Linked DNA regions of Homo sapiens: regions 1 and 2 are each linked to region 3. The links come from fine-mapping of genetic effects on gene expression. A gene starts in region 3. Each other region holds a variant in brackets. All regions are shown on one strand. Distances are from middle to middle.

Region 1 (7,673 bases), 22 kb before region 3:
TAGGGAGATAGTAAATGATTTTTTGGAGGATTCATTGGGCTTGGAGTGCATACAGTGGCTTGGGACAAAGTGTTGAAAAGTAGACAGTGGTTTGTGACTAAAGTCTGTCCAGGTGTATTGATAGACTTGTCTGTCTTCCTGCAATATGAGCTAAATTAATTAAAATGCAGGGACTTCAGGCAGATAAATGAGTGTTAGAATAAAGCTTCTTACAGTGTGTGATGGTCTCCAAGGGCCTTTAATTTAAAATAATGGGCATACCAGGGTGCCATATTTTAGGGTAAAATTCCCTGGTCTCCTTCCGTGGGAGAGTGCACCATGCCCAGAAAAATTAGGATTGGTATATTCATGAGCAGTATCAGAGTCACGGCCACCCATAGAGCCTGCACCACCATGCCCAGAAGAACGAGGATTAGTATATTCATGAGCAGTATCAGAGTCACGGCCACCCATAGAGCCTGCACCACCACGCCCAGAAGAACGAGGATTAGTATATTCATGAGCAGTATCAGAGTCACGGCCACCCATAGAGCCTGCACCACCACACCCAGAAGAACGAGGATTAGTATATTCATGAGCAGTATCAGAGTCACGGCCACCCATAGAGCCTGCACCACCACGCCCAGAAGAACGAGGATTAGTATATTCATGAGCAGTATCAGAGTCACGGCCACCCATAGAGCCTGCACCACCACGCCCAGAAGAACGAGGATTAGTATATTCATGAGCAGTATCAGAGTCACGGCCACCCGTAGAGCCTGCACCACCACGCCCAGAAGAACGAGGATTAGTATATTCATGAGCAGTATCAGAGTCACGGCCACCCGTAGAGCCTGCACCACCACGCCCAGAAGAACGAGGATTAGTATATTCATGAGCAGTATCAGAGTCATGGCCACCCATAGAGCCTGCACCACCACGCCCAGAAGAACGAGGATTAGTATATTCATGAGCCGTATCAGAGTCACGGCCACCCATAGAGCCTGCACCACCACGCCCAGAAGAACGAGGATTAGTATATTCATGAGCCGTATCAGAGTCACGGCCACCCATAGAGCCTGCACCACCACGCCCAGAAGAACGAGGATTAGTATATTCATGAGCAGTATCAGAGTCACGGCCACCCATAGAGTCTACATTTGGTTAGACTATGGGCTTAAAACTGTAGGTCATCTCTTATTAGCTGATATGAGTAACGTTACTTCCAGTAAATTTACATTTCCTTGCTTATAAAATGCTAAAAATAAATTGCTTGGAGGACAAAATGAAACATTTGAAAGCACCCCACCTCCTAAAAGTAATCAATATGAAAGCACTGCAAAGTTATCAATTAGCAAGAAGTTTGGTTTAATTTATTGGCTGAGAATTTGATGAGTTGCTTGAATTAGTGAGTCAATAAAGCCAAAAATATTGTCAGTTATTTTCATGTAGGAATAAGCAGTGTCACAAAAAATTAGTGTGTTTAGTCTGATTGTATTATTCTTTAAAACAGTATAGATTCAGTATTGTTTACAATTTCATTTTAAAATCTAATTTATCCCAAGTAATGAAAACTATGTCTAAATAGTGACTTCACTACTTAGAGGGAAAGAGTGTAAAGTCCCTTAATGAGAAAACCCATCTCTGCAGCATAGTACCCACGTTCTCCTGGGTAGATGAATGTATGCTAAATGCCCAACTTGATTAAAATCGTCATGGCACCCTCAGACTCAGCAACCTCATATCCATATTTGTTTTTATGGAATGAAATCATTCAAAATGTGTGATTAATTTTATCTCACCCATTCTTTTAAACATTGGAATATATCATTCAACAACAACAACAAAATACTCTACAATCCGTAGCTTTGTGTTGCAGATATGTACTTCACCAAAATACACAGGCTGTAAGTGGCTGACACAGAATATTGAAGAAAATCAAAAAGAGTATGCAAAGGGTAATGAGAAGTTCTAGTTTTGAATAAGGTGACCAGGAAAGACCCCGCCCTGCAGGGGATAACCCAGCAAATATATGATCTGGAAGAAAGCATTCAGGCAGCAGAAATGAGCGCCAAGGCCTGACGTGGAGGATGGCAGGTGTGTTCCAGGAGCTGTGAGGATGTCAGTGTGAGGACTCTGTGGCAGAGTAAATGACAGGAGGGTCGGAGAGACCAAGAAAGGGCTAGATAGGCAGGCCATGCTGAGCATGATACTTTATCCCTGAGCGAAATAGGACATAGTTGAAAGTTGTACCTAGAAAAATAGTTTGATTGGACTAATGTTTTATGAGGATCACTCTATATGCTTTCTTGTAAGTAAATTACAGAGAGGAGAAGATTGACATGGGAAAAGCAGTTAAGGGTCTTTGCAGTAATTTGATGAGAGATGATTATGTGTTGGAATAGATGTTATTACGGAAGGTGCCGCAAGATGGACAGATTTTTGTTATATACTGAAGGCAGAGCTGTTAAGATTTGCTGTTGGATTATATATGATGTGCTATAAACAGGAAGAGCCATGAATGATTCCAAGGTTTTGGATCTTGCGAACTGGCAAAATGTGATTGCCACTTATATTGATGAGGAAAGCGACAGTTGAAGCAGAAGAAGGGCACAGGGTTTTGGATATGTGGATGTTGCGATGAGTGCTAAATATTCAAATGTTGCTATCAAGTGGGCAGATGAATGTACAATAGGGAGTTTCAGGGTAAAGTTCAAAGCTAAGCACATGCATTGGGAATCAGTCAGCATATGAATGGAATTTTATCAAAGCAATGAACCAGCCAGCACCCGGGTAGATAGGGAGTGAGGTGAGAGAGAGAGAAGAAGTCCAAGTCTTGGGACTATAGGTTTCTCCAGTGGTGGTGGTGGAGGAGAAGAGAACAGCAAAGAGGATCAAGGAGTAGTGAGCAGTGAGGGAAGGGAAACATGGATGAGTGTTACCTTTGGAAAAGGGAGATTTTCCAGCACAAGTAGATTCTCAGTGTTGAGAGATACAGAAAAATCATTGAAGATGAACTCTGGGCCGGGCGCGGTGGCTCACGCCTGTAAATCCCTGCACTTTGGGAGGCCGAGGCGGGCAGATCACCTGAGGTCAGGAGTTCGAGACCAGCCTGATCAACCTGAGGAAACCTTGTCTCTACTAAAAATACAAAATTAGCCAGGCGTGGTGGTGCATGCCTGTAATCCCAGCTACTCGGGAGGCTGAGGCAGGAGAATCACTTGAACCCGGGAGATGGGGGTTGCAGTAAGCCAAGATCATGCCATTGAACTCCAGCCTGGGCAACAAGAGCAAAACTCCATCTTAAAAAAAAGACAAACTGACAAGTAACCATTCATCAACACGGAGGTCCCTGGGAAGATGGACATGCGCAGTTTGGTTGGGGTATGGTCACATCATGATGAAGAATTGAGTTTAGGAGAGAAGGGGTAGGGAGAGGAATGGGATACAGACCATATCAAAAGCCATTTCACAGATCTCTTTTGTTAGAAATGAAGCAGACCACTGTGCCGGAAGAGGAATGGCTTGGGAATACATGACCTGTTAGATTGTGTTAAATGCACAATCCATGGAGACCTACCTTTCAATCTCTGTTATTTACCTCTAGAGTTTGGGAAGACCACATAAACTCTTTGACTCTGAATCTACTCTTGTGTAATGTAGGGATGACAATGGTGACCCTCAGGGTGGTTACATAATAAAAATAATGCAATGCGCAGTTACGTGACCACTCAGGTTGGGTATCAATAAAAATTCACTAGACCGGGCGTGGCAGCTCACGCCTGTAATCCCAACATTTTGGGAGGCTGAGGCGGATGGATTGCTTGAACCCAGGAGTTCGAGACCAGCCTGGGCAACATGGCAAAACCCCTTCTCTACAAAAAAATACAGAAAACTAGCTGGGCATGGTGGTGTGTGCCTTCCCAGCTACTCAGAGGGCTGAGGTCAGGGGATGGCTTGAGTCTGAGAGGTGGAGGCTGCAGTGAGCTGTGATTGCACCACTGCACTCCAGACTGGGCAACAGAGCGAGACTCCGTTTCAAAAAAAAAAGTAGTTCACTGTAAGTGTTTAAAGGCAAATAAGTATAGTGGTAGTGGTAGTAGCAGTAGCAGTAGCAGTAGCAGTAGAAACAGTATTTGTTCTGATATTAAAAATCAAACTATATTAACATGTTAGTCTGATTTTGCATTGCTATAAAGAAATACCTGAGGCTGGGTAATTTATTAATATAAGGAAATATGCTTTATTTTGGCTCATGGTTCTGTAGGCTGTACAGGAGTCATGGTGCTGGCACCTGTTTCTGGTGAGGCCTCAGGACACCTACAGTCATGGTGGAAAGCAAAGGAGGAGCCAGCGTATCACATGGCAAGAGGGAAGCAGTGAAGTGGGGAGGCCCCAGGTTCCTCTTAAACGACCAGCTCTTGCATGAACGGATAAAGAACTCACTTATCACCAGTGGGATGGCACTAAGTCATTCATGGGGGATCTGCACCCATGATCCAGCACCCCCCACTAGGCCCCACCTTCAACATTGGGAATCACATTTCAACATGAGACCGGGAGGCGATACACATCCAAACCATATTATTTATTAACTTACTACTTATAAGCAATGCTAATAAGGAAATGCACTGAATATTTTACATCCCCCCTTCACTGAGGTTTCATATCTAGATGTATTTATTTATTATGTATATGGGTCAAATGTCTCATCAATCTCACTGGGACTTCAGAGTATCAGTATTTTTTATTGTTATATAACGCATAACTACAAGCTTATGTGCTTAAAGCCATACCATTTAGTAGCTCATGGTTCTGAAGACCAGACATCCAAGTGGGATCAGCTGGCTCCTCTGCTTAGGTTTTCTCAAGGCCCAAATATGGGTGTTGGCCAGGCCAGGCCAGGCTTCTGTGTAGGTCGGGGGAAGAACCTTACCTCCAACCTTATTCAGGTTGTTGGCATAATACAATTCTGTGCAAATGCGGTACTGAGATTCCTGTTTTCTTGCTGGCTGTTGGTTGGGGGCTATTCTCAGCTCTGGAGATCACTCTCAGCTCTAGAGGTCACTCGTTTGTCTCTTCATGTGACCTTTCCATTTTCAAAGCCAGCAAAGAGATATCAAATCCACATCTTATTGACCTTTCCTGCTGCCACCAACCCAATAGCCAGAGAAAACTTTCTGATTTTACAGGACTTGTGGGATTTGATTAGACGCACCTTGATAATCTCTCTCTTGTCATATAGTGTAACATACTCATGAGGCTAACACCAGGGTGTGAAGGTCATGGGGTCCATCTTAGAATTCCGCCTACCACAGTAATATAACTTTGGAAGTAGTGGATTTAATATTAATAAAATTCTATAGATTTTTAAGAAAAAAATTCCTAAGGGGTTTATAAATTTTATGTTAAATGCAGAAGATCCTCCTAAGTGCACTCAAATGCTTTGGATGTAAGCCAGACATGGTGGTGTGCACCTGTAGTCCCAGCTGCTGGGGAGGCAGACACGGGAGGATTGCTTGAGTCCAGGAGTTTGAGGCTGTAGTGTACCA[C/T]GGCTATGCCCATGAATAGCTCTGCACTCCAGCCTGGGCAACATAGCAAGACCCCGTCTCTCTGTCTCTCTCTCTCTCTCTCACGCACACACACACACACAAATGCTTTAGATGTAAATGAAAGGAAACTAAATGATAATTCACTTGGTTTGTCGTCATCAATAGTTGTTTTTTTTTGGGAAAGTTAAAGAGTTCTGGGTTACGCAGAGGTAACAGTGGAATATACCAGAAAGTTATAAAGAATAAGAATAATAAAGTAATAAAGAAGATTTCACCTGTAAGGTGAAATACTGATTTGTTTTCTCTAGGAGTTAATAGAGAGAGAAAAGTGAGGAACTGTGGGACTATTCTTTTCAGTGGTTTCCTAAGTTTCTACCAGTCCTTTCTTTCCTTTCACCTGGTCCACCACATTCTTTCCGCAGTGGATGTAAAGCTGGATCCCGCCACGGCGCACCCGAGTCTGCTCTTGACCGCCGACCTGCGCAGTGTGCAGGATGGAGAACCATGGAGGGATGTCCCCAACAACCCTGAGCGATTTGACACATGGCCCTGCATCCTGGGTTTGCAGAGCTTCTCATCAGGGAGGCATTACTGGGAGGTTCTGGTGGGAGAAGGAGCAGAGTGGGGTTTAGGGGTCTGTCAAGACACACTGCCAAGAAAGGGGGAAACCACGCCATCTCCTGAGAATGGGGTCTGGGCCCTGTGGCTGCTGAAAGGGAATGAGTACATGGTCCTTGCCTCCCCATCAGTGCCTCTTCTCCAACTGGAAAGTCCTCGCTGCATTGGGATTTTCTTGGACTATGAAGCCGGTGAAATTTCATTCTACAATGTCACAGATGGATCTTATATCTACACATTCAACCAACTCTTCTCTGGTCTTCTTCGGCCTTACTTTTTCATCTGTGATGCAACTCCTCTTATCTTGCCACCCACAACAATAGCAGGGTCAGGAAATTGGGCATCCAGGGATCATTTAGATCCTGCTTCTGATGTAAGAGATGATCATCTCTAAAATTCTGTTCCCAAGATGCAGTCCTAGCGTAGCGAACGTTCCTGGAGTGGGGTGAAGGATATCAATATACTAAGTTTTAACAGATACCCCATTTAGGTCAGCACTTGATTCGTTGTTGCTGTGAAATATGTCCATGGGACAAAAGAGGGAATATGAAATATTTGCATATGGGAAGATTATAGAGCATAATAATTTTGTAAATGGAGCAATCTCAACCTCTATTTCTAGATCACATTTTCTTGATGTCTTCCTTCAAATTAATGACCTTGGATTACATAAGGATTTCTATGCATTCATTATAATTTGTTATTCCTTTCAATATCCTTGTATTTCAAATCTTCCATATAAGAATTAGACATGGCAATTCTTAAATTGATTCAGAATGGTCTGATACTATTCCAGTATCACCTCCTTAATTCTGTTTCTCCTCGTTTTCCTGATTTTCCTTCTCATTCTCTCCTTCCCCGCTCTGTCTCTCTCTCCCTGTCACTCTCTCTCTCTTGTTCCTTATTTTTTGTTTCTTACCTCTTACTGTTTAACCTGTTGCTTCCTTCTGGATTAATACATTTAGAGCCATTCCTTTATATGGTCACATTTCCTATGACTTTACTCAATTACTTTTAAAATCCTTTCTATTCTGAGACTAATTTTTAAGAATTACAAAGCTCATTCTTCTGAATCTAATATCACTAACTCCTAGACTTTTTCCGTTTTCTTTGGATACACTTTAAGTAGGAATTTATCAGAATTTTCATTCAACTCGTTCTTTAATGCAGATATTTACTAGTTATAAGACCTTAAGGCTGGGTGCAGTGGCTCACGCCTGTAATCCCAGCACTTTGGGAGGCTGAGGCGGGTGGATCACAAGCTCAGGAGTTCAAGACCAGCCTGGCCAACATGGTGAAACCCTGTCTCTACTAAAAAAAAAAAAAAAATAGAAAAATTAGCTGGGCATGGTGGCAGGAGCCTGTAATCCCAGCTATTCTGGAGGTGGAGACAGGAGAATTGCTTGAACCCTGGAGGCGGAGGTTGCAGTGAGCCAATATCTCACCACTGTACTCCAGCCCAGTGCGAGACTCCATCTCAAAAAAGAAAAAAGACCTCAAACAACACTTCTCTCTCTCTTTTAG
Region 2 (7,876 bases), 260 kb before region 3:
GGCTGAAGAACAGCAAAGACTGCTGCCTGTTCCTTCCTCTGGAAACTTTGTCCCAGAGGGACACCCACCAGATGGCAGCTGGAGCTCTCCTGTATGAGGTGTCTGTCAGCCCCTACGGGGAGGTGTCTCCCAGTCAGAATGCACTGGGGTCAGGGACCCACCTGAGGAGGCAGTGTGTCCCTTATCATAGCTTGAAGGATGTGCTGGGAGATCTGCTGTTCTCTTCAGAGCTGTCAGGCAGAGACGTTTAAGTCTGCTGAAGCTGCTCCCACAGCCACCCCTTCACCCAAGTGTCTGTCCCAAGGACTTATAGATGCCTTTTTTTTCAGAGATGTCCAAAGAGGAGGAATCTAGAGAATGCCATTGTCTTAAATAGCATTTTCAGGGTTGACATTGTGCAGTAGCTGAAATTTAGGCAAAAGCTTAAAGGAGGTAAGGGAATTGGTCCTAAGCTATTTAGTGGAAGAATGTTCCAGACAGAGAAACATGTGCAAAGTCCCTAGGTAAAAGCCGCCTGGCATGTTCCAAGAACGAGGAAGAGATTGGCATAGCTGGAGGGGAGTGAGTGAGGGCCAGGGAAGTGGAACACGCAGGTGAAGAGGCAGCTGAGTAGCAGATCACCATGGAGGAAAGAGGGGCCCACTGCAGGGCTGTGAGGAGTGATGTGATCTGACCGATTATTTTACAGTGCCCTTCTAGCTGCCCTGTAGAAGGTCGAAGGAAGAACTGGGAAGGACCATTGTGGGCTGTTGGAACAATCCTGGCAAGAGACAATGGTGGCTCTGGCTGGCATGGGAGGGTGTGGGAGGGGCTTACCTGATGCTCTGTGATGGTTTGTGTCTCTCTCATGAGGGTGTGTGCATTTCCTCAACACCTGGCAGCAGCGGAATGTTGGATCTATTTAAGATAAATATTAACAGCCTGATTATTATAGGTGTTATTATTCCAACAATAACCAGTACCCTAATTCTCTTATTCCAGCTCAGTGTCCAACAATTCTGTCCAGTTCTGACACTAGCCGGAGTTAGCGCTGACCCCAGGGGTTAAGGGCTCAGTTCCCCAAGACCACCTCCACTTCATATGCAGGCCAGAAATGGGGTCCTCAGGCTATTTACACTTCTGCCTAGCTCACTAAAAATGTGAGGGTTGGTAGTTTGTTTCAAACTATGACTCCATCACTCCTGTCCCCAGGTTTGAGAATTTTCTAGAATGGCTCATTCCTCAGGAAAGCGCTTTACTTACAGTCACAGTTTATCTTAAAGGATACAGTTTAAGAGCAGCCAAATGGAAGAGATGTACAGGGTAAGGGGTGGGGTGGGGATGGAGGTTCCCTGTCTTCTCTGGGGGCACTAGCACCTCAATGTATTCACCATCCTGGAAGCTCAGCCTCGCTGTTTCAGGAGTTTTACTGAAGTTTCATTACATAGGCATGATTGATGGCAATTGGTGGTGATTGGACTCAATCTCCAGCCCTTGTCCCCTCCCTGCAGATCAGGGGGTAGGGCTGAGAGTTCAGCCCTCTATTCATGTGGTCGGTTGCCCTGGCCACCAGCACCCATCTAGAAGCTATGTAAGGGCCATCTAGAGTCACCTCTTAGCATTAACTCAGGTAAGATCAAAAGGGGCTGTTTATGAATAATGGAAGAAACTCCTATCACTCAGGAAATTCCAAGAATTTCAGGTGCCTTTTTGCCAGGAATCAAGGGCAAAGACCAAATAGATAAACATTTTGACCCTAACTTTTGAGACAGGGTCATGTCAGAGCTCAAGCGATCCTCCTGCTTCAGCCTCCCAAGTAGCTGGGACTAAGGTGCATGCACTCATACCCGGGTAATTTTTTTTTTCATTTTTTGTAGAGATGGGGTCTCCCTTTGTTGTCCAGCCTGGTCTTAAATTCCTGGCATCAAGGGTTCCTCCAGCATCAGCTTCCCAAACTGTTACAATTACAGGTGTGAGCCACTGCATCTGGCCCAAATATATATTTTTGATGATAACACAATGGGAGTATCAAAAATTCAGATGGGAGAGCAGAGTCCATTGTTCAGAAGAACAGCAGATCAGTGAAGTCCAAGTGTCTGAAAACCAACCCAGGCAGGGAAGAGTAGGTGGGCAGTTGGAGGGCCAAGAAAACTAACAGCCTGATGTGGCTGATGAAGGACGGAAGTGGATGTGGGCTTTCAGCCATGAGCAGTTGGCAATAACTTAGAAGTAGAGCCTGGGTGCGGAGAAGGAGCAAGTAGATTTGCAATTTTTCAACCTCTCCTAGGTTTCAGGAGTTCATGAGTGTAAATAAGTTCATGAATGTCCAGGCATATTCACATGCATAGCTCCATGTCTCCAAATCTTCACTTGCTTGACAAGATCTTAATCCCATGTTTCTCTTGTCTCCTTAAATTCCTCCTCAGCTATTTCTGGGTGTCCTTGGAATGGTGATGTCTCAACATGGGCTTGGGAACACGTTTGCTCCTCTTCTTTCCACTTGAGTCCAGGGGCCTTGCCATGGCCTCTGCACTTGGTGCTCTTTGAAAGACATGATTCCTGTGCACCCAACAGACCCCTGTGAAACAGGAATAAAAATGTCTCATAGGATGTCAGTGAAGATTCAATAAGATAGTGTTTATAAAGCACTGAGATTAAATAAGAATGTTTGATTCCTACTAAAAGCTCAATTAATGGCTGGGGTTATTATTATTACTGTTCTTATTGTTAGGCATGGTTTTGAATTCCTCACCATCCTAATTGCCACTTAAAATGAACAACTGTCTTTGTGGATACAATTTCAGAGGCAGCATGGGGACTAACTTTTCCAGAACATGAACCTAGTGCCTCCTACAGTGGTAGAAATTAAAATCCTGTGTGAAAACACAAATATGCTTGGGAGAGTTACTGATTGCCAAGAAAGCTCTTTAGTTTCCTTTCTGTGTGAAGAAGCAAGCAGGGCTCAAGGGGCCCTACCAAGGCCATGGAGAATGGTAAGTGCTGCTCACAGCCACCCAGTCTGCGTTCTCCTTTCTAAAGGAGGTCTAAAGAGGTGGGAGTGAATCAGTTTAGTTTGCAAACACACACACACACACACACACACACACACACACATATGAAAATATGCAAGACGGAATCCCAGGGCCACTTTGGGGTGAGACCTTCCCCATGAGCAGGAAGGATGTTGAGGAACTGGAGCAGAGCCCAGGCGGGAAGAAGAACCAACAAGGTCACGTGGCAGCTTGATCTGGCTGGGAACTGAGCTCTGCAGTGTGCTTGGGAATATAAACAATGGGGACAGAAAAGAAAAAAAAAAGATTTCATTAGAAATGTAAAATCAACCAGGAGGGCAGCTCTGTCCTGCTGGGGCATAAAGCCATGGTGGAGGCCCAGGAAAGTTCTGTTGATGGAAAACAGTATCTGGGCATTTGGCAGCAACAGATGACTTAGATATGTTCCCTTGATTTCAGTACTCTCACTTTTATATTGAAATTATGCTATTTGATTTCTCAGCACCTGGTAGAGTGCCTGCACAAGGACTGTGCAGTTAGCATTTGCTGAACTTCACAGAATTGGGGATGGGGTGGAGAAAAGAGCAGAGCCCATCACGAGAGGGAGGTAAAGTTGAGATAAAGAAGTTTGAGATGCTCTAGACACCCTTTGCGTACTTCACCTTTTTTTCTGGCATTAGCCTTGAGCATTAAGATGCAAAGTAAAAGCGAAGGAAAAGGAAGAGGCCTGGAGTGAGGATAGTGCATGGAGCTCATCCTCATGAAATTCTTCTCTGGTTGCTGTTCCCATGAGGTTATGCGATGCCTGAGCCCAGGAACTGTGCTCCTGGGTCCTGATACCAGTGCCCAGCCCATAGCGGGGGATCCCCATTTTATGATAAGAATAAATGAGCACCTCCCAGATCGGTGACTTGCTCCACCCCACAATAACCCCGGGAGGAGGGTGTGGTCAGTCCAGCTGTACAGGTGAGAAAGTGAGCTGGGAGCTGTGACTTATCCACACCCTCTCAGCAGCAGTTGTGACAGCTGGGGTCACACAGTTGATTCACTGCCATAGGGGAAAAGTGGAGGAGGGAGAGGGGCAGAGAGCGAAGAACAACTCAGGAAAATGAAGGAAAAGCAGAGGCAGAGAGCGAAGAACAACTCAGGAAAATGAAGGAAAAGCAGAGGAGAAATTAACTGACTGGAAAAATGACAATAGTTGGAAGACAGACGAAAAAGGGACGAGTGCATCAGAGTGTATTTTGGCACTTATTACTCTATCTCCTTTTTATACTACTTCGCTTTTTCAACTTAATAGTTAAGGCACGTCGGTCTAGTCTTCCCCGAAGGGAGCTTGCCAGGCTCTGCGACAGGCTTGGAAGTTGGAGCCCGGGCCCTGGGTTCTCTCAGCTTCCAGCTCAGGAGGCGGAGTGGGAGGAGCGGGCCTGGCGGCCGTGGGGGCGGGGCTGCTCCACTAACGGTTACTGGTCGCTGCTGCCGCCGCGCTCCTCCCCCGGCTGCGGCAGAGGCGCGCGCCTGCGTCCTGAGGATCCCGCCCTTGGGCCGCCGGGAACCTCGCAGAGCGGCGGGGTGGCCCTGGCGAGGCGCGGTTGTTGGGGGTTCGCTCGAGCCTCACGACGCCCGCGACTGGGGACTCGGAACCTGGGCCAGGCTGGGACGAGGCCGCGCGGGAGGGCGCGCTGGGCGGACGCTGGGGCCGCGGAGCCCAACCGCCCTTGTCCTGGACGCCCCTTGGCGGTCCGCACTGGCGGGTGCCCTCTCCCGAGGGGAACTGAGGCGGGGCGCCTGCCACCATTCGTGATTTTCCGTGACTCACCCTCTCAACAGTGTCCCGTCAGCCCCCGCTTTCTGGAATTAAGATGATTTTCCATGGGCATTATAGTCAGAGGAGGTTTTCTGTGAGACATCTGGGAAAGGTGACTCAATGATCACTCATATTGTTCTATGATGTTATACATTTAAC[C/T]GGAATACTGGTGAACAGCTTTTATATCTTGGAATTTTTTCCCATTTTTGAATCAGAAATTTAGGACCAAGAATCTTCTGTCACAGAACCTATTACTTTGAGGAGTGAACTTATATTAACGGTGCTAAACCGTACATGAACGACTTGGTAGATGAAAACTTTGGAAAATAGGAACATTTCATGTCATCACATGTATCCTCCAGCATTGGGGAAAATTCAACAGTTGCCTTAAGGCGGGAGTTTAATTGAGGACATTTACTAAAAAGTTACTTATTCTGTTTGAAATTCTCTTCTGATAAACATCTTCCCGGGATAACGAACATCTCCAGGATGTGAGAGCCGAGCGCGTGTCCGCGGAGTGCTTGAGCAACGCAGAATGGCTTCGGTGCTGCGTTCCTTAGACCCCGTGCGGACCCTGCTGAGCCCTCAGCATCTGTGAGTGAGTCCCTCCGCGTCACCTTGGCCTCCCGTGTAGCTAGATCAGTCTTCCGACCCCTTGTTCTACTTGCACAGATTTCTGATTAACCTCTTCTGCTCCTCCAGAGATGAGTCAGGGCTCCGTATCAGCTCCCCAAGGCATTTGCTGGCTTCTGACATTTACTTGGAGGACTTTGGGCTGCGAAAGGGCAAAGTTTGCCGTTCTCATCTCTTTTTTTGGTGCCTGCCCCCGGGTCTTGACCTTTCTCTGGAGTCTTCTCTCCTGGTTCTTTACCCACCTCTTTGGTTTCTCCTGTGGTTCTTTGTCAAGGTGTCCCCTAGATGTCACACTCTGAGGCTCAGTTGTGGCTGAGTCTTGCATTGCAAGTGTTTTTGCAGGTGTCTCTGCGAAGCGTGGATATGGGATGGTGAAAGTGGCAGTGTGCACAGAGTGTTTGGGATTAGATGGGCAGGTGGAAGGGCGTCTAGGTAGGACCCCTTTGTCCTGGTGTGAGGTAATGAGGTTCTAGAGTGTGCTGTCAAGGTGAAACTAAAAGGAAAGGATAGACAGGAGACTTTGTGAAAGACGAAATTATGGTAGTTTGGTAACAAATGGATGCAGGGACTGGTGGGTGGGTGTAGAAGAAGGCAGAAAATCTTGCCAAGGACATTGCAAGTCCTGAATCAGACCAGGAAAATTAAGGTTCAATTAACAGAAATAAGTCCAGAGGGGGAGCTAATTTTGGAGGAAGTGTGGTGATAAATTTGCTTTTCTATGTGGTCCAGCTGGTGGAGAGACATCAAGAAGCACTTAGAGAAATACAGGAAATAGAGAGGTGGGTGACCTAAGTCCTACTTCCTATCCTGTCTATGTATATATAACAAAGGCCAAATGAATTCATGTGTTGAGGTCTGCTTTCCTATTTCTAATAGCAATGGCATAAAATGAATTCTAGCCAATTCTAAAGTCACTAGTAGATAGTAATATTCACGAAGTAGCCACAAATCCAGGGCTCTAACTCAAGGGAGAGAGATCGGGACTGGAGATAGAATTTTCACAAGTAACTGATGCATGGCACTTTTCTGTATTTTGGTAAATGTATTGAGAAGATGATTGCAGTTAAGTAGCTAACTGTTCCAGATACTATCCGAGGCATGAATGATTTGTCCTGGAGTAGGTGTGCTGTGTCACTGTAGCATATCTACTACAACAGACATGATATGTTTCCATACATTATCTCATTTAACACTCAGAAGAACTTCAGGAGTAGTTATTACTAGTCCATTTTGCAGAAGCTTACAGATAAGATTCAGAGATGAAGCATCAGGTCTATCTGATTTAAACCCAGGTCTATCTGATTTCAAAGTCGATGGACTTTTTGTTATTTCATACCATAATCTGTCAGGGTGTGAGTGGGGGATAAAAGAAAGTTAAACAAAACTCTTGGAAACAGAGAGGAAGGGCTTAAACCATTAAAATTAACTTCAGAAGTCAAGAATGAAGCTCGGGCAGAAAACAAGTAGAGGGCACAGTTCTGTCCCGATTTACAGAGGATGGGTTTGCGACCTTTCTGATGCATTAACTTAGTAATGCTAAGGTGTGCCATCCAAAACGATCACCTGTATATAAGCCACTCTTTCACAGAGGTGGGTTTTTCTTTTCTTTTTTAATTCCCATGCTGCTCAAAACCTTTTAGATTTGAATTATTGGGAAGAATATCTCAGGGTAGGCAGGAAGCCAAAGGGGTTGAGAGCTGCTTGTCACTTGCTGGTTTTGCTTGGTATGGGCTCGGTCAGCAGTAGGGACTTCCTTAGTCCTCAGTCTTTCTAGGTTAACTACCACCCTCTTGGTCCTTGTTTCTGTTTTGCTTTTCCTGGCTTGGACATGGAATTTGTAAGTGCCACACATTATTTCCTGTCCCATGACCATACTTAAGCTATAAATTATAGTTTTGTTTCTTCCTGATCCTTTTCCTTCAACACCAAATGTGTTTGTGCCTCAAACCAGGAAGTTGGAAATGTTATTTAACTTTCCTGCATTTTAATTGGTCACAAATCTCTCCCCTTACACACACGCCCCCAACTTTTGAGGAGTCTTGAGAATCTCCTTAACGTCCTTGACAGTTGATCAATGAAAGACATGTAGGGAGATCCAGATTGCAATGAATATTGTATTATTTGCTTAAGAATTTGAAGAGTTATTGCTTCGTAGTAAATGAAGATGAGCATATTGAGGTTTATAAGGGAGGCTGAGGTTCACTTGGCCAGAGATTCAGATGTTCACTTTATTTTATAATCATCCTTTTTAAAAAACAAAATAGACTGACATGGGCAACTTTCTCAAGATTTCATATGGCACATTGCATGTAGGGATAAACAGTACCAACATTATTTGCTTGGAGTGCTTTAGGATCGAGGAATGGGGAAGCCTAAGCAAAACCCCCAAATCTTGGCAAGCTCAGGAGGAGGGAGCAGATAGCACTGCTGGGGTGATCTGTGCTGC
Region 3 (7,876 bases):
AGAATTTAGTCCATTTACATTTAAGGTTAATATTGTAATGTGTGAATTTGATCCTGTCATTATGATGTTAGCTGGTGATTTTGCTCGTTAGTTGATGCAGTTTCTTCCTAGTCTCAATGGTCTTTACATTTTGGCATGATTTTGCAGCGGCTGGTACCGGTTGTTCCTTTCCATGTTTAGCACTTCCTTCAGGAGCTCTTTTGGGGCAGGCCTGGTGGTGACAAAATCTCTCAGCGTTTGCTTGTCTGTAAAGTATTTTATTTCTCCTTCACTTATGAAGCTTAGTTTGGCTGGATATGAAATTCTGGGTTGAAAATTCTTTTCTTTAAGAATGTTGAATATTGGCCCCCACTCTCTTCTGGCTTGTAGGGTTTCTGCCAAGAGATCCGCTGTTAGTCTGATGGGCTTCCCTTTGAGGGTAACCCGACCTTTCTCTCTGGCTGCCCTTAACATTTTTTCCTTCATTTCAACTTTGGTGAATCTGACAATTATGTGTCTTGGAGTTGCTCTTCTCAAGGAGTATCTTTGTGGCGTTCTCTGTATTTCCTGAATCTGAACGTTGGCCTGCCTTGCTATATTGGGGAAGTTCTCCTGGATAATATCCTGCAGACTGTTTTCCAACTTGATTCCATTCTCCGCATCACTTTCAGGTACACCAATCAGACGTAGATTTGGTCTTTTCACATAGTCCCATATTTCTTGGAGGCTTTGCTCATTTCTTTTTATTCTTTTTTCTCTAAACTTCCCTTCTCGCTTCATTTCATTTATTTCATCTTCCATTGCTGATACCCTTTCTTCCAGTTGATCGCATCGGCACCTGAGGCTTCTGCATTCTTCATGTAGTTCTCGAGCCTTGGTTTTCAGCTCCTTCAGCTCCTTTAAGCACTTCTCTGTATTGGTTATTCTAGTTATACATTCTTCTAAATTTTTTTCAAAGTTTTCAACTTCTTTGCCTTTGGTTTGAATGTCCTCCCGTAGCTCAGAGTAATTTGATCGTCTGAAGCCTTCTTCTCTCAGCTCGTCAAAATCAATCTCCATCCAGCTTTGTTCTGTTGCTGGTGAGGAACTGCGTTCCTTTGGAGGAGGAGAGGCGCTCTGCGTTTTAGAGTTTCCAGTTTTTCTGTTCTGTTTTTTCCCCATCTTTGTGGTTTTATCTACTTTTGGTCTTTGATGATGGTGATGTACAGATGGGTTTTTGGTGTGGATGTCCTTTCTGTTTGTTAGTTTTCCTTCTAACAGACAGGACCCTCAGCTGCAGGTCTGTTGGAATACCCTGCCGTGTGAGGTGTCAGTGTGCCCCTGCTGGGGGGTGCCTCCCAGTTAGGCTGCTCGGGGGTCAGGGGTCAGGGACCCACTTGAGGAGGCAGTCTGCCCGTTCTCAGATCTCCAGCTGCATGCTGGGAGAACCACTGCTCTCTTCAAAGCTGTCAGACAGGGACATTTAAGTCTGCAGAGGTTACTGCTGTCTTTTTGTTTGTCTGTGCCCTGCCCCCAGAGGTGGAGCCTACAGAGGCAGGCAGGCCTCCTTGAGCTGTGGTGGGCTCCACCCAGTTCGAGCTTCCAGGCTGCTTTGTTTACCTAAGCAAGCCTGGGCAATGGCGGGCGCCCCTCCCCCAGCCTCGCTGCTGCCTTGCAGTTTGATCTCAGACTGCTGTGCTAGCAATCAGCGAGATTGCATGGGCGTAGGACCCTCCGAGCCAGGTGTGGGATATAGTCTCGTGGTGCGCCGTTTTTTAAGCCGGTCTGAAAAGCGCAATATTCGGGTGGGAGTGACCTGATTTTCCAGGTGCGTCCGTCACCCCTTTCTTTGACTGGGAAAGGGAACTCCCTGACCCCTTGCGCTTCCCAGGTGAGGCAATGCCTCGCCCTGCTTCGGCTTGTGCACGGTGCGCGCACCCACTGGCCTGCGCCCACTGTCTGGCACTCCCTAGTGAGATGAACCCGGTACCTCAGATGGAAATGCAGAAATCACCTGTCTTCTGCGTCGCTCACGCTGGGAGCTGTAGACCGGAGCTGTTCCTATTCGGCCATCTTCGCATGTATTTATTTTTATTTGTCTTAGTTTGGGAGTACTGTTTTGTTACCTCCACGTATGGATTTATATTAATTTGCGAGTACTGCTTTTTACCTGCACATACATGCTTATATCTATTTATATTAATTTGGGAGTACTGCTTTTTACCTGCACATACATACTTATATCTATTTATATTAATTTGGGAGTACTGCTTTTTACCTGCACATACATACTTATATCTATTTATATTAATTTGGGAGTACTGCTTTTTACCTGCACATACATGCTTATATCTATTTATATTAATTTGGGGGTACTGCTTTTTAGCTGCATGTATTGCACAGTGGCGAAGTCTTGGCTTTTAATGCATCCATCACCCAAACACCAGGATGGACCAAGTCTCCCTATATCCATCTGTAAGACTTGTGGTTTGTCTTATCAAATATGCTTTGCTTTGAATGTGATGTGGTATTAGAGTTGGAACGTGATAGAGGTTTCTGTACATATGCGTGAATTTTGCATTACAGTTGTAATATCTGTTACAAAGTTTTTTCAATCTCTTTTATCCTCTCAAGCAGTATATAGTACTTTGGAAGAAAAACCCATACACTCTATTTGTTCAATACCAGGCCCATTTAAAAGACAGAGAGAAAAAAAGAGATTTTATGTGTATTTTGCCTGTCTCTTACATTATTTATCTACTGAGGTAATTTTAAAATTAAATTAAATTAAATTCTGAGGTAATTTAAAAATTACCTCAGTAATGGTAACCCAATGAATGAGGTGTGTCTTTGAGACCAGTAATAGATAAAGTACTCTGTGTGTAAAGAGTATTTCCTAAATACTATTGATGGATTATTTTGAGGCTCCATTTTGAGTCCTTGAGGTTTTTGGCAGGAGCCTAGGGACTGGAGTCTCTAGAAAAATTCGTGGTTTGGCCACAGCAGGATTTGCCTTCACTTCACTGGATTTGGAGGCAGTGCTACTGGTGGTTTAGATTGCACACTCTCAGCTACATTGCCGGGGTTCAGAATCAGCTCTGTGTCTTCCTACATATCACAGTTTGCTCAACACACATGTGTTTCAGTTTCCTTTTCTATAAGTTGGGAGCTAATAATAATAGTGCAACTCCATATAACTGTTGGGGTTGAATGAATAAAATAAATATAAAAAGCATAGAAGAATGCTTAGCTTCTAGTAAGTTCTCCCTTAATATCAGCTGTTATTATTATTATTAGGATTGATATTTCTGTTCAGCAGCAGTAGAGATGGATGGAACCAATGGCAGCACCCAAACCCATTTCATCCTACTGGGATTCTCTGACCGACCCCATCTGGAGAGGATCCTCTTTGTGGTCATCCTGATCGCGTACCTCCTGACCCTCGTAGGCAACACCACCATCATCCTGGTGTCCCGGCTGGACCCCCACCTCCACACCCCCATGTACTTCTTCCTCGCCCACCTTTCCTTCCTGGACCTCAGTTTCACCACCAGCTCCATCCCCCAGCTGCTCTACAACCTTAATGGATGTGACAAGACCATCAGCTACATGGGCTGTGCCATCCAGCTCTTCCTGTTCCTGGGTCTGGGTGGTGTGGAGTGCCTGCTTCTGGCTGTCATGGCCTATGACCGGTGTGTGGCTATCTGCAAGCCCCTGCACTACATGGTGATCATGAACCCCAGGCTCTGCCGGGGCTTGGTGTCAGTGACCTGGGGCTGTGGGGTGGCCAACTCCTTGGCCATGTCTCCTGTGACCCTGCGCTTACCCCGCTGTGGGCACCACGAGGTGGACCACTTCCTGCGTGAGATGCCCGCCCTGATCCGGATGGCCTGCGTCAGCACTGTGGCCATCGAAGGCACCGTCTTTGTCCTGGCGGTGGGTGTTGTGCTGTCCCCCTTGGTGTTTATCCTGCTCTCTTACAGCTACATTGTGAGGGCTGTGTTACAAATTCGGTCAGCATCAGGAAGGCAGAAGGCCTTCGGCACCTGCGGCTCCCATCTCACTGTGGTCTCCCTTTTCTATGGAAACATCATCTACATGTACATGCAGCCAGGAGCCAGTTCTTCCCAGGACCAGGGCATGTTCCTCATGCTCTTCTACAACATTGTCACCCCCCTCCTCAATCCTCTCATCTACACCCTCAGAAACAGAGAGGTGAAGGGGGCACTGGGAAGGTTGCTTCTGGGGAAGAGAGAGCTAGGAAAGGAGTAAAGGCATCTCCACCTGACTTCACTTCCATCCAGGGCCACTGGCAGCATCTGGAACGGCTGAATTCCAGCTGATATTAGCCCACGACTCCCAACTTGCCTTTTTCTGGACTTTTGTGAGGCTGTTTCAGTTCTGACATTATGTGTTTTTGTTGTTGCTCTTAAAATTGAGACGGGGTCTCACTCTGTCACCTAGGGTAGAGTGCAGTGGTGCCACCATAGCTCCTTCGACTATTGGGCTTAAGCGATCCTCCCCCACCTCAGCCTTCCAAGTAACTGGGACTACAGGTGTGCATCACTGGCAGTGGGAATTGTGGCTTGTGGCTTTTCTGTCTTCTATGGAGACGGGGTCTTGCTGTGTTGACCAGGCTGGTCCCAAACTCCTGGCCTCATGTGATCCCCCTGCCATGGCCTCCTAAAAGTTCTGGGATTACAAGTGTGAGTCACTGCGACTGGCCAACATTATGTGATTTATGTGTGAACTATATAACACAAATCATCCCCAAAACCCATCATGATCTGTAAAGCAGCTGCAAAGAATGAAGTGAGACAAACAGTTGTAAAGATGAGTTTCCACCTACTTATACCAGAGTGCTAAGAGGAAATAACTCTTCTCAATCAGAGCTTTGCTTTGTTTGTTGTTGTTTGCTTTAAAGTCTAACACACCTGACATGTTTCAGTCAGAATGACCCCAAATGCATCACTGTTCTCCACGTGGTCCAAGTGCCTCTCTGTTTAGGGCCATCAAATCATGGAATGCAGCACAGTTTTATATTTTCTATATTCCCAATTCCTACCCAAACCTTTTCATGAAATCGTAGAGTTTGTTTTACCCTTTATCTGGTGTAAGATTCTGCATAAACCAAGAAGTGAACCTGTAAGTTATGATGCATGGGTTGTTTAAATCTTAAAGCATCATTCTTTCTCAGGCATGTTTTTTTCATTATTAGTAAGAAGAACCTGACATTGGTTTAGTCCCTTCTGTGTACCAGACGCTCCTAAGTCATGCAACCTCAGTATTTGTATGAGGTCAGCATGATTATCATTATTCCCATTTTATCTCCCTGGTCCTTGAGATCTGAAGGTTAAATCTTTTGCTCGAGGGGAACTGAACCAGGGTTTTTTCCAAGTTCTGTCAGACTCCCGATTCATATGGTTTCTATTGCATCATGAAATTTCAAAGAGCAAAAATCCTTAAGCATTTGGCACACAATGTCAAAGACCCTTTGGGGCTAAGGGGCATGACTGGCTACTGTTCCTTACACATTGCAGTCCTCAATGTGTCCCACTAACGTGCCCTCCAGTTATCTGAGGTCTTGTTCCAATGCAATTCCAATTCAGCTGGTGATAAGAGGGGTCTGAGTTTCTGCGACTCTGCAAACCTCCCAGGTGATGTCCCTACTTTGGGGACTCGGACTACATTTTAAGAACCCAGGAAGTATATCACCCCCTGCTCTTGTTCCGGGCATTTGGAGGGTGGACACATTCTGGAAAAAGTTGGGAGAGTGTTCATAGACCAAGGGCGAACACAAGGTGAGAGGGAGTGGTGTGAAAGGCCAGCTGAGGGGTGGTCCTCATTCCTCTGCCGTTGCTCCTGTGCTCGGCTCCCTCCTCCTCCACAAGTGTATTTCTGCGCTCTTTTGTATCCTCCTCACCTCCACACCTCACATCTAAAGTCACCAGCCCCAGGGCATTGTGTAAGTGTAAACAAACCAGAGCCCCAGAGAGGGGGATTCCTGTGCTTCCAGAGCACCCCCTCTGACTATTCAAGGATGCTGTTTGTAAGAAGTACTGATGTGGATGTGTAGTAGGAAGAGCCGCAGACAAAACTCCTCAGACACCGAGTTAGAGAAGGAAGGGGTTTATTCGACCAGGGGCATCGGCAAGACTCCTGTCTCAAGAGCCGAGCTCCCCAAGTGAGCAATTCCCGTCCCTTTTAAGGGCTCACAACTCTAAGGGGGTGCGCGTGAGAGGGTCGTGATCGATTGAGCAAGTAGGGGGTACGTGACTGGGGGCTGGTAATTAGATCGGAACAAAACAGGACAGGGATTTTCACAGTGCTTTTCTATACAATGTCTGTAATCTATAGATAACATAACCGATTATGTCAGGGGTCAATCTTTAACTACCAGGCCCAGGGTGTGGTGCTGGGCTGTCTGCTTGTGGATTTGATATTTGCCTTTTAGTTTTTACTTTTTTTTTCTTTGGAGGCAGAAATTGGGCATAAGACAATATGAGGGGTGGTCTACTCCCTTATTCCCCCCTTTGAGAGTCTCACTCAATAGTGGGAGTTCTCACTTTCATTTTTACTACCCATGTCTTCTGGCAAGACAGATCAATAGTGATTCATATAGTACACTTGTGCTGAAGCTTTTGGTGAACTAAGGTAGTGATGAAGCTTTTTATCATTTGAAGAAGTACAGGTAGCAAACAAAGGAGCAGTAAGTAGGTTCCTATTACTATTATAACTCTTATTATAAGAGTTTTAAATCCTCCTAGCTCTGGGAACCATTTTCTAAACATGGCCCCAGGATCAAATCCGTCACACTTGCATGGGCACGTGTGCCAGTTTTGTCATATCTCTAACTATGTCTTCAAATACTTGCCCTTGATTATCTATGTGTAGGCAGCAATTAATAAGGTTAAATTTCCTACAGACTTCTCCTTCAGCTGCTAGCAAGTAGTCAAGAGCCAATCTGTTTTGATAGATAGCATTTCTCATCTGAGTTTCTTGCTGGGTCAGAATGGTCAAGGCTCTGCCGGTTTTATTAGTGATTATTTTTAAGACAGCTTGTAACCATATGATTTGGTTGATCATGTACATGTGGGTCCGGTATCCTCATGAGCCGTCTTGTACCTAAGTAGCAGGCCCATAATATTGCACGATTCTCTTAGGGGGCCATTTATCATTTTTTCAATTTCTTATAGCTATGCTTCTCTTTTCATGGGAAGCATAGACAGGGAAGCCCAGGAGTTTGCCTGTTTTTATGGGCGGTAGGAAGAAAGATGGTTTAATAGTGCCAATAACACAACTACCTGCCTACTGGTCAGGTAATTTGGCATAAGCTCTATGCCTACATATCCAGTATAATCCAGTGGGGGCCGTCCAGTCCTGGTGGGACTCCAGGTGGGTCCACACGATCTGCAACTTTGGGAATTTATGAAATGGATTTCTCTCTGTGTGATTTGAACTCCACCAAGTGACTGTTTTTGTGGTACCATTATACAGTTTCTGTCTCCGACAACTAAGTCATCCTACAGGGTGAGTAAATTCTTTTCCTTCCCTAGCTATGCAATATTGTCCAATAATTGAGGCGTTTAGGACCTAGAAATTATCAGGGTGATTCTTTTGAGCCGGGAATTCATCAGGAACTGGGTCTGTAGGTACTAATTCTCGGGCTTCCCATGGCCATTGATCTCCCATTACAGTTCCTCCACATACATAATGTGAAGTGACATTGAGAGACTGGGCTACATGCTTGGCTAATTGCAAAAACAAATTTCATGTTTTTCCTGGAATTTCTGGTACTGGCACATTTAGTTCATCATAGAAAGTTTGAAACGCTGGCTCAGGAGAGCGTTTGTAAACTTCTCCTCGAACCAAGATATTTACTCAAGGATCCAGTCCGGCCCCGTCAATTCCTAAGGTC

Which allele goes with the higher level. Alleles are on the strand shown, and positions count from the first base shown. SD is a standard deviation of normalised expression in the study named. Not every link is listed here.
For the expression in subcutaneous fat of the gene that starts at base 3,286 in region 3, C is the low allele of the variant in region 2 and T is the other (moderate effect, 0.67 SD a copy in GTEx).

Evidence for each region.
Region 1: its variant is fine-mapped to the expression of OR2W3 in whole blood (TOPMed, PIP above 0.99).
Region 2: its variant is fine-mapped to the expression of OR2W3 in subcutaneous fat (GTEx, PIP 0.96).

The regions. Positions count from the first base shown.
Region 1 is chr1:247,869,947-247,877,619 of GRCh38, forward strand. It overlaps TRIM58 (tripartite motif containing 58), which reads left to right. Exons shown (of 6, transcript NM_015431.4): 6 at 5,954-7,673. The coding sequence ends at 6,543. Among named protein-coding and RNA genes, the nearest start is that of TRIM58, 17 kb to the left of the region's middle. The variant C/T (reference allele first, on the strand shown) is at 5,532.
Region 2 is chr1:247,635,039-247,642,914 of GRCh38, forward strand. It overlaps LOC102724446 (a long non-coding RNA gene), which reads right to left and starts at 5,816. Exons shown (of 3, transcript NR_188589.1): 1 at 5,673-5,816; 2 at 817-897. RefSeq lists a silencer at 4,627-4,825. The variant C/T (reference allele first, on the strand shown) is at 4,957.
Region 3 is chr1:247,892,302-247,900,177 of GRCh38, forward strand. It overlaps OR2W3 (olfactory receptor family 2 subfamily W member 3), which reads left to right and starts at 3,286. Exons shown (of 1, transcript NM_001001957.2): 1 at 3,286-4,230. The coding sequence starts at 3,286. The coding sequence ends at 4,230.